Regions from separate parts of the Homo sapiens genome. Here all the other regions are reported to be linked to region 3. The links are microRNA targets in miRTarBase. Many come from high-throughput screens and were not tested one by one. Region 3 holds a microRNA gene; each other region holds the end of a gene's coding sequence. Distances are between the middles of the regions.
Evidence for each region. Region 3 holds the annotated microRNA hsa-miR-4753-5p (CAAGGCCAAAGGAAGAGAACAG, at 1,618-1,639, opposite strand). A microRNA usually pairs through its seed, bases 2 to 8, with sites in the 3' UTR of a target mRNA and lowers its output. Matches are read on the target gene's strand: a 7mer-m8 pairs with bases 2 to 8, a 7mer-A1 pairs with bases 2 to 7 and ends in A, and an 8mer does both.

Region 1: the mRNA of SLC25A34 is a reported target of hsa-miR-4753-5p. Seed matches in the 3' UTR shown: 7mer-m8 at 1,637-1,643.
Region 2: miRTarBase lists SERINC5 as a target of hsa-miR-4753-5p. The part of its 3' UTR that is shown has no 7-base or 8-base seed match.

The regions. Positions count from the first base shown.
Region 1 is chr1:15,738,887-15,743,029 of GRCh38, forward strand. It overlaps SLC25A34 (solute carrier family 25 member 34), which reads left to right. Exons shown (of 5, transcript NM_207348.3): 5 at 338-2,506. The coding sequence ends at 520. It overlaps TMEM82 (transmembrane protein 82), which reads left to right and starts at 3,613. Exons shown (of 6, transcript NM_001013641.3): 1 at 3,613-3,761; 2 at 3,949-4,021; 3 at 4,134-4,143. The coding sequence starts at 3,674. SLC25A34-AS1 (SLC25A34 and TMEM82 antisense RNA 1) reads right to left here. Exons shown (of 2, transcript NR_149050.1): 2 at 1,165-1,336. RefSeq lists enhancers at 2,723-2,792, 3,194-3,974.
Region 2 is chr5:80,140,295-80,144,471 of GRCh38, reverse strand. It overlaps SERINC5 (serine incorporator 5), which reads left to right. Exons shown (of 12, transcript NM_001174072.3): 12 at 662-4,177. The coding sequence ends at 809. Among named protein-coding and RNA genes, the nearest start is that of THBS4-AS1, 59 kb to the right of the region's middle.
Region 3 is chr1:235,188,469-235,192,645 of GRCh38, forward strand. MIR4753 (microRNA 4753) reads right to left here and starts at 1,648; the gene lies at 1,566-1,648. The region is part of intron 19 of ARID4B (AT-rich interaction domain 4B); the gene reads right to left.

The DNA.
Region 1 (4,143 bases), 220 Mb from region 3:
TGCTGAGCCCCCGGGTCCCAGGCACAGGCTAAGCACTTTCACATCTGGATTTTATTCCATCCTTATAATCACATTCATCTTCCTGATGAGGAAGCTGAGGCTCAGACAGATCAACTGACTTGCATGAGTTCCCCCAGCTGGTAAGGGGAGGAGCCAGAACTGGAATTCAGGCCTGACCCCACAGCCTTCCCATGGCGCCGCAGCCTCACAGGTGTGTCCAATACAAAGGTGCTGTCCATAGGGTGTGTGGGGGTGAAATTGACCCGTGTGCCAAGATGTGGTGCCAGCCAGGGCCTCAAGGCCCCTGTAGTAACACTCACCCCATGTCTTTCCCCAGGGCCAGCTCTATGGGGGCCTCACCGACTGCATGGTGAAGATCTGGCGGCAGGAGGGCCCCCTGGCACTCTACAAGGGCCTGGGCCCCGCCTACCTGCGCCTGGGCCCCCACACCATCCTCAGCATGCTCTTCTGGGACGAGCTTCGGAAACTGGCTGGGCGGGCCCAGCACAAGGGCACCTAGACGACGGCCCTCACCCCCACGTCCTGACACGGCCGGCACTTGGCCGGAAGTGAGAGCCTGCTCCAGGACAACTGGCTGTCCCGGGGCGGGCCATGGGCCCAGGCCCTGCCAGAGGTCCCGGGAGAGTGTGGACAGCTCTGGTCCATCCAGCCCCTTGGCCCACCCAGGTCCAGAGCATCCACTTCAAGTTACCACCCATTCTGTCTTCCAGACAGTTCTCTTCCTTCTCTGTACTGCGTACTGGGTCACCACATCCCAGAGCCTTGCTCAGTTATAGCAACTGCTGCGGGCGTGCACATGGCATAGGCCCAGTAACTTACATACATCGGCTCACTTAGGCCTCAGACAGCAGCACGAGGCAGGCACTTTTACTTCTTTTACCATTAGAAAGCCAAGGCCTAGAGTGGTGGGCTTTGACCACAGCCACACAATTTTGAAGTGGCAGAGCCAGGACTGGAGCTTAGCCCTGCTCACCCTAGACCTATGCGCTTGACAAGTGCGTGACTGTGACAGGCCCATGGGCCCGGACTGCCCATAGGGGTCACTGTACCATGGCAAAGGCTGAGGTGCACCAGGAGGCTGTGGCGTCGTCACCTGCCTTATTTGCTGGAGAAGCTGTAGCAAAGAACCACAGACTGGGCGACTTAGACAATAGAAATGTATTTTCTCACAGTTCTGGAGGCTGGATGCTGGAGACCAAGGTGTCAGTGGGCTGGTTTCTTCTGAGGCCTCTGTCCATGGCTTGCAGATGCTGCTTTCTCTCTGTGTCTGCACATGGTGGTCCCTCGATGTGCGTCTGGGTCCTGATCTCCTCCTCTTATAAGGACACAAATCATGTTGGCTTAGGGCCCACCCTCATGACCCCACTTTAATTTTTTTTTTTTTTTTTGAGATGAAGTCTCACTCTGCCACCCAAGCTGGAGTGCAGTGGCACGATCTCGGTTCACTGCAACCTTGGCCTCCTAGGTTCAAGCAATTCTCCTGCCCCAGCCTCCTGAGTAGCTGGGATTACAGGTGTGTGCCACCACACCCGGCCAATTTTTGTATCTTTAGTAGAGATGGGGTTTTGCCATGTTGGCCAGACTGGTCTCGAACTCCTGACCTCAAGTGATCCACTGGCCTTGGCCTCCCAAAGTGCTGGGATTACAGGCATGAGCCACCTCACTTGGCCCAATTTTAACTTAATTATCTCTGTCAAGAGCCTATCTCCATATACAGTCACATCCTGAGCTACTAGGGGGTAGGACTTCAACATGCACTTCTGCAGGGGCCGCAGTTCAGCCAACATCATCTTTTTTTTTGAGATGGAGTCTCGCTTTGTTGCCCAGGCTGGAGTGCGGTGGTGCAATCTCGGCTCACCACAACCTCCACCTCCCAGGTTCAAGTGATTCTCCTGCCTCAGCCTCCCGAGTTGCTGGGACTATAGGTGTGCGCCACCATGCCCAGCTAATTTTGTATTTTTAGTAGAGACAGGCTTTCGCTGTGTTGGCCAGGCTGGTCTTGAATGCCTGACCTTGCCGCCCGCCTCGGCCTCCCAAAATGCTGGGATTACAGGCGTGAGCCACCGCGCCTGGCCTCAGCCAACATCATCTAAGGGCTCTCACGGAGGGCCTCCCAGCTGCCCGCCCTGTGGGCATTTGCACATATCCTGACAAGCCTGAAAGAAGCTCCGGGTGCCCATTGTTCAGTCCAGGTGCCCATTGTTCCCGGGACTGAGGCCCGGGAAAGGGAAGCGACGTGGCAGGGCCAGCAGCAGACCCTGGGCCTTTCTCTAGACTGAGCACCATTCCCCGTGGGTGTGCTCTCAGCGCCGCACCGACCTTCACACTGCAGAGATGGATGCCAACTCCCTGGCAGGGGCAGGACTGCTGCCGAGCAGCCCCACCTGCCCTCCCAGCCACACCCCAAGTCTGTAAGGGCCGCTCCCAGGAACACCTGCTACTGCACACTCCAAACCAATAAAGTTTTATATTTTGTTTACTTCAACGACCCTCCTCTGTGGTGAATCTCAGTCTCCCCCATCCCTGACCCCCACCTTCTGCTCCCTCTGCCCTTTCTGTTTGTGAAAGCAGGATGGGAGCCGTGGTCCACCTGTTCAGCTCCGCCCTGCTGGACCCAGGTGAGGCCTGCCACCTAGTGGACCCAGGGAGGAGCATCAGGAAGGGCGGCCCCGGCCTGTGGGAGGAGAAGGCTCAGGCAGGCTCGGGCTGCAGGAGATTCCACACCGAGTCAGAGCCGGAGGCTTTGGGAAGCTGGAACCAGACCTTACAAAAAGCAGGCAGAGCTGACCTCCTGGCTGTGGGGGAAGAGAGCCCCAGACCTCAGGCTGAGAGGGCACAGCTGATCTCTGGCTATGGGGGGATAGAGTCCCTACTCTCAGACCCTGGGCTGAAGGGTCAGAGCCCACACTTCAGGCTGCAAGAGGACAGGACCCACACCTAAGGCGGGGCAGGACAGATGGAGCCTGGGACTTCGAAGGGGCATTGGGTGGTTCAAGCCCTCAAGGAAGATTGCTATTTTTTTTTTTTTTTTTTTTTTTTAGACAGAGTGTTGCTCTGTTGCCCAGGCTGGAGTGCAATGGTGTGATCTCAGCTCACTGCAACCTCCGCCTCCTGGGTTCAAGCCATTCTCCTGCCTCAGCCTCCCGAGTAGCTGGGATTACAGGTGCCTGCCACCACGCCCGGCTAATTTTTTGTATTTTTAGTAGAGACAGAGTTTTACCATATTGGTCAGGCTGGTCTCGAACTCCTGACCTTGTGATCTGCCCACCTTGGCCTCCCAAAGTGCTGGGATTACAAGTGTAAGCCACTGCGCCTGTCCTCCCTCAAGGAAGATTTCAAGTAAAGTGGATGCCAGACTTTAGCAGGGACAGAGACCAGAGACCAGCCCAGAGACACCTGTCCCTTCACCCCACACTGCCCAAATGGGGAGCCCGGGCAGCAGCTGGCTCCAGGCACCCCGTGTGCCTGGAGCTGGGACCTTGCCCTTCTGGGCCTCGAAGGGTTAACACCCCTGGCTCTCCTCCCCTCCCCTCCCCTGGGCCTTTGACCCCTCCCAGCCTCTCTCCTTCCCTCCACCGACACCTTTGCCCAGTGACGTTGGTCTGTCCTTACGCAGACCTGGCCGGAGGCTGGGGCTCCTTCCGGGGCTGCCATGTTCTCTCTTCCATCCCTCCCCTCCTGGCTCCCCGGCCTCCCCTCCCTCGAGTGGGGCTCTAGCCTCCTTGACTCCCTCCTGCAAGGTGAGCACCTCGCCCCATTCCTGCCTTGGCCCCGCCCCCTTCCAGCTCTTTGCAGTGCAGGGTGGACCCCACCCACCTGGTCTCCCGACACCCCTGCCCCTTGGCCGCCCCCTCTGACCCTACCAATGAAGCCTGCCCTCCTAACACCCCTGCACGCTGCCTCGCTGCCTCCCTCCCGCCCCCTCAGGCCTGATCGGGGCCCTTGGAGTCTTGGTCCTGAACAGCCTCCTGAAAGTTTACTTCTTCGTGGGCTGTGCCAAGTGAGTGCCCACCTCATCCCCCCAGGGAATGTGGCTGGGGGCACGGGGACCCCCACCAGGGGTCGAAGGTGGCAGTTCTGCACCCCTGCCCACACCCATTCTGTCCCCAAAGTGACCCGCAG
Region 2 (4,177 bases), not on the chromosome of region 3:
CATTGCTGGTTTGAATGTGAAATCTGCTTTGGAAAAGAGTTTGGCATCTCCTTAAACAATTAAACATTGAGTTACAATGTAATCCAGCTCTTCCACTACTCCTGAGCGTATACCTAAGACAAAAAGAAAACTAGGTCCACAAAACTTACACAGCGGTGTTCATACAAGCATCATTGGTGATAATCAAAAAGGGGAAACATCCCAAATGACCATCAGCTGGTGACTGCCTAAACAAAATGTGCTCTATCCATACAATAAGATACTATTTAGCAGTAAAAAGGAATGAAGGACTGACACATGCTGCCGCGTGGCTGAGCCTTGGAAATTGTATGCCAGGCAAAAAAGCCACACACAAGAGACCATGTGATTCCTTTTATATCAACTGTCCAGAATAGGCAAATTCATAGAGGCAGAAAGTAGATTGGTGAATGCGGGGGGTGGGCTGAGGGGGCCATGGGGAAGGGGAGAGCACCTAAGGGGTGCATGATTTCTTTTGGGGGTGATGAGAATGTTTGGAAATGGGTAGTGTTGATGGTAGCACAAGTCTGTGTATGAATACATTGAAAGCCGTTGAATTATACATTATAAATGGATGTGAATTAGTGAATTGTATCTCAATATATTCCTGCTTTGACCGCGGCTAGGTGTCTTGTTTCCACAGCTACGAAAGTGCCAACATCGAGAGCTTCTTCAGCGGGAGCTGGTCCATCTTCTGGGTCAAGATGGCCTCCTGCTGGATATGCGTGCTGTTGTACCTGTGTACGCTGGTCGCTCCCCTCTGCTGCCCCACCCGGGAGTTCTCTGTGTGATGATATCGGCGGTCCCCTGGGCTTTGTGGGCCTACAGCCTGGAAAGTGCCATCTTTTGAACAGTGTCCCCGGGGCAGGGACTGGCGCCCTGTGCCTGAGTGGGTCTGAAAAAGCTTTGAGAGAGAAAAAAAAAAATCTCCTGATTAGCTTTTTACTTTTGAAATTCAAAAAGAAACTACCAGTTTGTCCCAAAGGAATTGAAATTTTCAACCAAACTGATCATGGTTGAAATATCTTACCCCTAGGAACTGGATACCAGTTATGTTGACTTCCTTCTGCATGTTTTTGCCAAAACAGAATTTGGGGCACAGCATCTTTTCACAGGGATAAAAATATCTTGTGGGGCCAGTCATTCTCATCCTCGGAATAGAAAAACATGCCAAAATCTTGAGTCCCCAGCGCCTAACAGAATCCAGACCCCTCTCACTCACTTCCGCCTCTTAGAGCCTTGTCCCCAGGGGGCTTTGAGGACAGGACTCAGCCTGCAGGGCCCCTGGTATTTATAGGGTCCAAGAGGAGGCACCTGCTTTTCAACTGCACCCTCAGTGCTGCCTCTTCACGGCCCCTAAACGTTTCCCTTTGAGGTTGTGATGCTGGGAATCACAGACTTCACTCTCTGCCTGCACCCTTCCCCGAGGTCTCATCTTTTCTGGGTCCCACATCTTTGTAATAATGTGAAAAAGCACAATTTGTCTGATCACCCCCCAGGTGGTTCCCCACCTTATTATCACTACCTGATCCGAGTTACTGCAATAAGTACGGCGCTTATTTATGGTGTTATTCACATGATTATAGAACAAGATTCATGTTTTCTCTGCCTAAGCAATGGAGGGCTATCATTCTTACTTGTTTGTGCTGTTGATAATGATAATACTTTTAGGACCTTAACTGAAAAGCTGCTTCGTGTTGAAGCCTGCTGCATGCACTGCTCTTTCAGTTGTTGAGGTCAGCCCCTCAGTTTTTTCTCCACCTTGAGGCCTTTGAAACTGTAAAAGCGGAAGTCGTTTTGTGTTCTGGATCTGTAACGTGACCATACCGTTCAGGTTCATGCTGGCATCCTTGGAGTAGGTTTGCTAATGTGAGAATTTCTGAGGTGAGGATCTCAGACACACTGACCAGAAGAAGCTTGTTAGGCAATGTGTGGAAGTGGCCGAATATACTTAAAAAGAGGTGCGCAGAGGCAGGCGGATCACTTGAGGTCAGGAGTTGCAAGACCAGCCTGGCTAACATGGTGAAACCCTGTCTCTATTAAAAATAGAAAAATTAGCCGGGCATGGTAGCGTGTGCCTGTAATGCCAGCTACTCGAAGGCTGAGGCATGAGAATCACTTGAACCCGGGAGGCGGAGGTTGCAGTGAGCCGAGATCACGCTGCACAGGAATTTCCAAAATACGTACTTGCAAAGTAATACAGAAACGTGACTTTCGGCAGCTACCCAAGATGATGCCTATTTTCAGTGTTGATGTATTCAGGCAGGGAAAAGGTTTACTTGGTGGAAACTCCTGTTAGAATTTCATTCGGGGTGGAAAGAATCTTCTCGAGCTCTCTGTAAGTGAGGATCTAAGAATAAAAGGCTCAGCCTAGTCATTTTTTTCTGTGCCCTACTGTATGAGTTGGGCAGAATTGAGTGCCACCTAAGCTGGGCTTCTGTGTGCCAAAATGCTGGTGGGTGAAATTAGTGAAATTCTTTCTATTCATTCCTTTGCCCTTCTCCCAAGAAAACCCATGGGGAAACAAATTACAGGGGATGAATTCCTTTAGAACTTTCCCTACTTAGAGTGTTTGAGATTCAGTTTCAAAAGGCACTCCATCTGTGTGTGTGGTTTAGAGAGCCTTGTTTTGTAAATTCCATTAAATTTCCTTTTTTAGGGCAGGAGCTCTGTACTCAGCAGTTAAAAGATTCATCTGGAGTCGCAAAATGAAAAGCCGTGTTCTAACCTGAGGAATCAGTTAGGGGACAGGAGTTCCGTGGGCCAGGAATGGGCTCAGGGAGTGGGGCTGCGTGTCACACACAGTAGCTGTGTTGCAGTGGCCTAGGGCCTTGGGGGTTGTCTTTAGGAAACACCCTGAGGGGAAGCAGGTAAAGAGCCTGGGCAGTATTGTGACTAGTTTCATTGTTTTCCTCCTGCTGAGGTCTAGCAGAGCCCTTGCTTTGTCCTCTCGGCTGGGTCTGGCTGCCAGCTGGTGTGATTTGAGAAACTGACCTTACGCGCAGTCAAGGTCCAGCTGACAAGGCCTTGTATTCCTTGGCTGGCCGTGATTGGCCCTTTCCTCTGCAGAAAGCAGCTTAGGGAAGCCCAAGCAAGGGAGTGTGGCCGGTAGAAGGCCCTCGTCGCTTCCTTCTGGAGCCAGCCCAGCCACACAACGTTTTCCAGATGCGTGAGTCTGGTTTGTGACATCCCGTTCCCTTCTGCCGGTTGGTCTGATGCAAGAGGAAGAGTTACAGTTGCTCTGAATTTTATTCTCAGCTGAAAATGTTAGCACGTGTATCTGGATGAACAAAACAGATGTGGATGTATCTGAGGATTGAGGGACTATCAATGCAGAGTTAATGTTAATGGTTATTAATTGTGATATACAATACTCAGGTGAGGAGTCAACATTCCTGGATTTAAAGAATCTACAGTTTTGTGCAATTGTGATTTGAGAAACTGGAAACATTGTGCCAATGGCTTTGAGTTCCTATAACAACGGTGTTAATTTGATTAACTCACTGATATCTTTTAAAAATAATAGACATTTGCTTCCTACACCTTTTTGTACATGACCTAAAGAGTATATTCCCAGAAGCTGCTGGTCAGACACATTTAGGGATGACAGTTGAAGAGGACTTTTTTAAAGCTGCATGTGAATATTTCCTCTGTGTGATTTGTCTGATGTAGAAAAGTTTTCCCCTCATTTTTATGAGTAAAAACACTAAGTGGGTGGCAGGGGGGTGGGGGTTCTTATGGGAGTGTCATACCGCGGCATGTTACCTGACTGGAGACTAGAGACTATTTCCATTATAAGCCTTCAGAAACCCAACCACGTCTTTACTGTGTCTAGCTTTTTAAATACTGATTGGTTAGTTTTATTTTTGCCCACAGTTTCTTGGGCAAAAAGGTTCTTCATTTTGTCTGAAAAAGAAATTATTTGCCAGAGGTATTTGGAGCCTCTTTGAAGGGGAGATAGAGTGGGGGTGGGTTGTGGGGAGGGTGGAGTTATTGGGGTTTTGGGGTTCTGTTTCCATACAACATTGTTTATTTCCGATTCCTCAGAAGATCCTTTATTATGAATAACCTCAGTGTAATGTTAATTTCCTGTCCCCATGTCAAAATTGTCACCCTAAGCCTTTTTTTTTTTTTTTTTTTTTTTTTTTGGAGACGGGCT
Region 3 (4,177 bases):
CCACCTCACTTCAGGTTGGAAGGTGACTGCCCTTCTAGAGCTTTATTCTCTGAAGACAGTAGGAGAGGGCTCCTAGCCTGGGAGATGCTAACAACTGTTGAAGGCACAGGTACAGATGCGATGCTGAAATTAGGGGGATTCATGAACATATCTAACCACTAAGAATCCTCCACCCCACTCTCTGTTCTTCAACTAGATCCTAGAACACTGGAAACCATTCTCTTACCACCCTCCAGTCAAGAGATTGGAACTCTTTTCTCTGGAAGCCAACTAGTCTAAGAGAAAAAGACCTAAAGACTTCATATTATGAATTCCCTAGGACATGGCCAACCAGATCACCCGATAGTGAAACTCAAGGTCAACAAGTGCCAACCATATGCTTGCAATTTCCAAATCAGTTTAGTCTTTCCTTCATAATCATAAGACAGCCAGGAAAAAAAATTCTTAATAGGGAAGAGCTCAAAACAACAACACAGAAAAAAGCAAATTAGAGGTAACTGAAAAAACCAAAAATTATAAAATCCTTTGAAAGATCAAAATCCGAAAGGTAAGGTATTGCATCCATCTATAAGAACAGAGTGGTACAAAACACACAGAAAACAGAGCTCTTGAAAAATTAAACTAGTTTAATTTAAAAATATTCATTGAAAGGCTGGGCGCAGTGGCTCACGCCTATAATCCCAGCACTGTGGGAGGCTGAGGCAGGTGGATCACAAGGTCAGGAGTTCAAGACCAGCCTGGCCAAGATGGTGAAACCCCATCTCTACTAAAAATACAAAAAATTAGCTGGGTGCGGTGGCAGGCGCCTGTAATACCAGCTACTCGGGAGGCTGAGGCAGGAGAATCGCTTGAACTTGGAGGGCAGAGATTGCAGTGAGCCGAGATCATGCCACTGCACTCCAGCCTAGGCAACAGAGTGAGACTCAGTCTCAAAAAAAAAAAAAAAAAAAAAAAAATCATTGAAAACTTAAACATTACAGCAAAAAGTCAACAAAAGGATTAAAAGACAAAGCAGATAAAATTTCAAAGAAATAAAAAGACAAAAAAATTAATAAAAAGCAAGAAATTAAAAGGTGAGCATATTAGAGTATATTACAGAAGGTATAATATCAAATAATGGCTGGCCAAAGAAAGATAACAGCCAAGTGCAGTGTCATGCACCTATACCCCAGCTACCCAACTACTTGGGAGGCTGAGGCAGGAGGACTGCTTGAGCCCAGAAGTGTGAGAACAGCCTGGGCTGAACATAGTGAAACACAGTCTCAATTAAAGAAAAAAAAAAATTTGGCAGGGCTGGGACAGTAGCTCATGCCTGTAATCCTAGCACTTTGGGAGGCTGAGACAGGAAAATCGCTTGAGCTCAGAAGTTTGAGACCAGCCTGGGCAATATAGTAACACCTCATCTCAAAAATAGTAACAATGAACAAAAATTAAAAAGGAGAGAACAGTAAAATGCAGGAGAGGAAATCATCAAGAAAATCATTCAAAAAAACTGCCTAGAACAGAAAGACAGAAGTTGCTAGAATGAAAGAGTCTAGCAAGTAGGCATCACAGGGGATGAAAATATATCTACACAAGGCTAAAGAAAGAGAACAGCCAAGTGTACTGTGGATATATCTGTTCTCTTCCTTTGGCCTTGTGTAGATATATTTCAGAGTTAAATTTCTGGATACGAAAAACAAAGATTCAAGATTCCTAGCAGGGCATGGTGGCTCATGCCAGTAATCCCAGCACTTTGGGAGGCTGAGGTGAGTGGATCACTTGAGGTCAGCAGTTCGAGACCAGCCTGGCCAAAATGGCAAAACCCCATCTCTACTAAAAATAGAAAAACTAGCCAGGCGTGGTGGCAGGCCCCTGCAATCCCACCTACTCGGGAGGCTGAGGCAGGAGAAACACTTGAACCCAGGAGGCAGAGGCTGCAGTAAGCCAAAATTGTGCCACTGCACTCCAGCTTGGCCAACAGAGTGAGATTCCATCTCAAAAAAAGAAAAGAAAAAAAAAAGATTCCAGAGACAGAAAAGCAAAAAATAAAGAATAAAACAAGTCACATACAAAGAATCAGGAATTGGAAGAGCTCTGGACTTCACAAAAGCAATACTGGAAGCAAAAAAACAATTCAACACTGCCAATAAAATACTGAAGGAAAAACTTCCAATCCAGCCAAACTATGAATAGAATAAAGATATTTGCAAAAATAAATACAGATATTTAAATGCAGCCAATCTCTAAAAATTCCATCTCATGCACTTGTTCTTTAGAAGCTACTAGAGAATGTGCTCCACCAAAATGAAAGTATGGGGGTGGGGAGGAACCTGAGATGCCAAAAACAAAGAAATCCAAGAACTACATTAAAGGAGATCCCTAGAATGGGATCTCCCTAGGAAAATAGCTGTGCAACAGATATAGAGGGAAACCAGTCCAGACTACAGCAGTGTTATTTCCAAAGAAAGTCATACTGCAGGCTATTATCATTAAGCTACCTGCTACCGCCTCTCTGTAGTCTTTGAATGCCTGAGTGACCCAGACTGGATTTTAAAATCTGTATTTATCTTGTTTCAACTATGTGTCAATGAAATTCCAGCTCTCCCTTCCATGTCTTATGTGCCACTACCTAGATCAGCTAATGACATCATTTTATCCAGCAGAAACATTCTGACCTACTTGTGAAAAATAGGGGTAAATCACCATAAGCCTAGAATGAGAATATATATAGAGTAGTCTGCTACTACGACTGAGCACACTCCCACATAACATCCACTGCGAATGTGTCACATATTCTTTTTATTTTATTTTTTTTAAGATGGAGTTTCGCTGTTGCTACCCAGGCTAGAGTGCAATGGTGTGATCTTGACTCACTGCAACCTCTGCCTCCTGGGTTCAAGCGATTCTCCTGCCTCAGCCTCCCAAGTAGCTGGGATTACAGGCACCCACCACCACACCCGGCAAAGTTTTTGTATTTTTTTTTTTAGTAGAGACAGGGTTTCACCATGTTGGCCAGGCTGGTCTCAAACTCCTGACCTCAGGTAATCTGCCCGCCTTGGCCTCCAAAAGTGCTGGGATTACAGGAGTGAGCTACTATGCCCAGCCAAATGTGTCAGATATTCTAACTGTAGTGGACCCCTAGGTTTATCAGAACTGGCTTATGACCTGTCCAACTGAATTCTCTAGAGGGGCTTTTGTAAACTCTCAGAGAAGCTAAATCTGAAATCAGAGTATGACTTAGAATCTCTATTCAGGTAACATTCTCAGAAAGCCTTCATCTGAGCCTTCTTATAAAACTAGGCTTATGCTTGTTACTCAATTTTTAAAAAACTAAAAAACAGGCTGGGTGCAGTGGCTCATGCCTATAATCCTAACACTTTGGAAGGCTGAGGCAGATGGATTGGATTGCTTGAGTCCAGGAGTTTGAGACAAGCCTGGGCAACAGGGTGAAACCCCATCTCTACAAAAACTACAAAAAATAGCCTGGCATGGTGGCACACACCTGTAGTTCCAGCTACTTAGGAGGCTGAGATGGAAAGGTCGCTTGAGCCCAGGAGGTCACTTGAGTCGTGATAGCACCACTGCACTCCAGCCTGGGTGACAGAGCGAGACTCTGCCTCAAAAACAAAAACAAAACAAAAAAACACCCTAAAAAAATGAAGTAAAATAAAAATTACTTAGGAATATAAATATAGATAATTCAATTCTGAAGAAAAGTAAAGCAAGGATTACACAAAAGTCCAGACTATAATTACTTCTGGGAGGAGACATACTACGAAGTAAAATAAAAATTACTTAGGAATATAAATATAGATAATTCAATTCTGAAGAAAAGTAAAGCAAGGATTACACAAAAGTCCAGACTATAATTACTTCTGGGAGGAGACATACTACATGTTTTAAGTAAATAGTATTTGATTGCTACTGTGGAGACATACTAGTATCCATATTATTACTGTTCTTTAAACTATACATGTATTTTCCATGCACTATTTGCATGTAGGATACATGGGAAAATTTTTTAAAAATCAATTTAAAAATATTGCCCTAATTAGTACAGTGGTGAGTAAATAAAAATATAGTACAGCATTTGGTTTATAAAATAATGAGTTAATATAAACACACATCTACAATAAGAAACAAAAACTAGCTTCTATTAACATTCAAAATAAGTAAAAATGAAACCTCTTTTAAG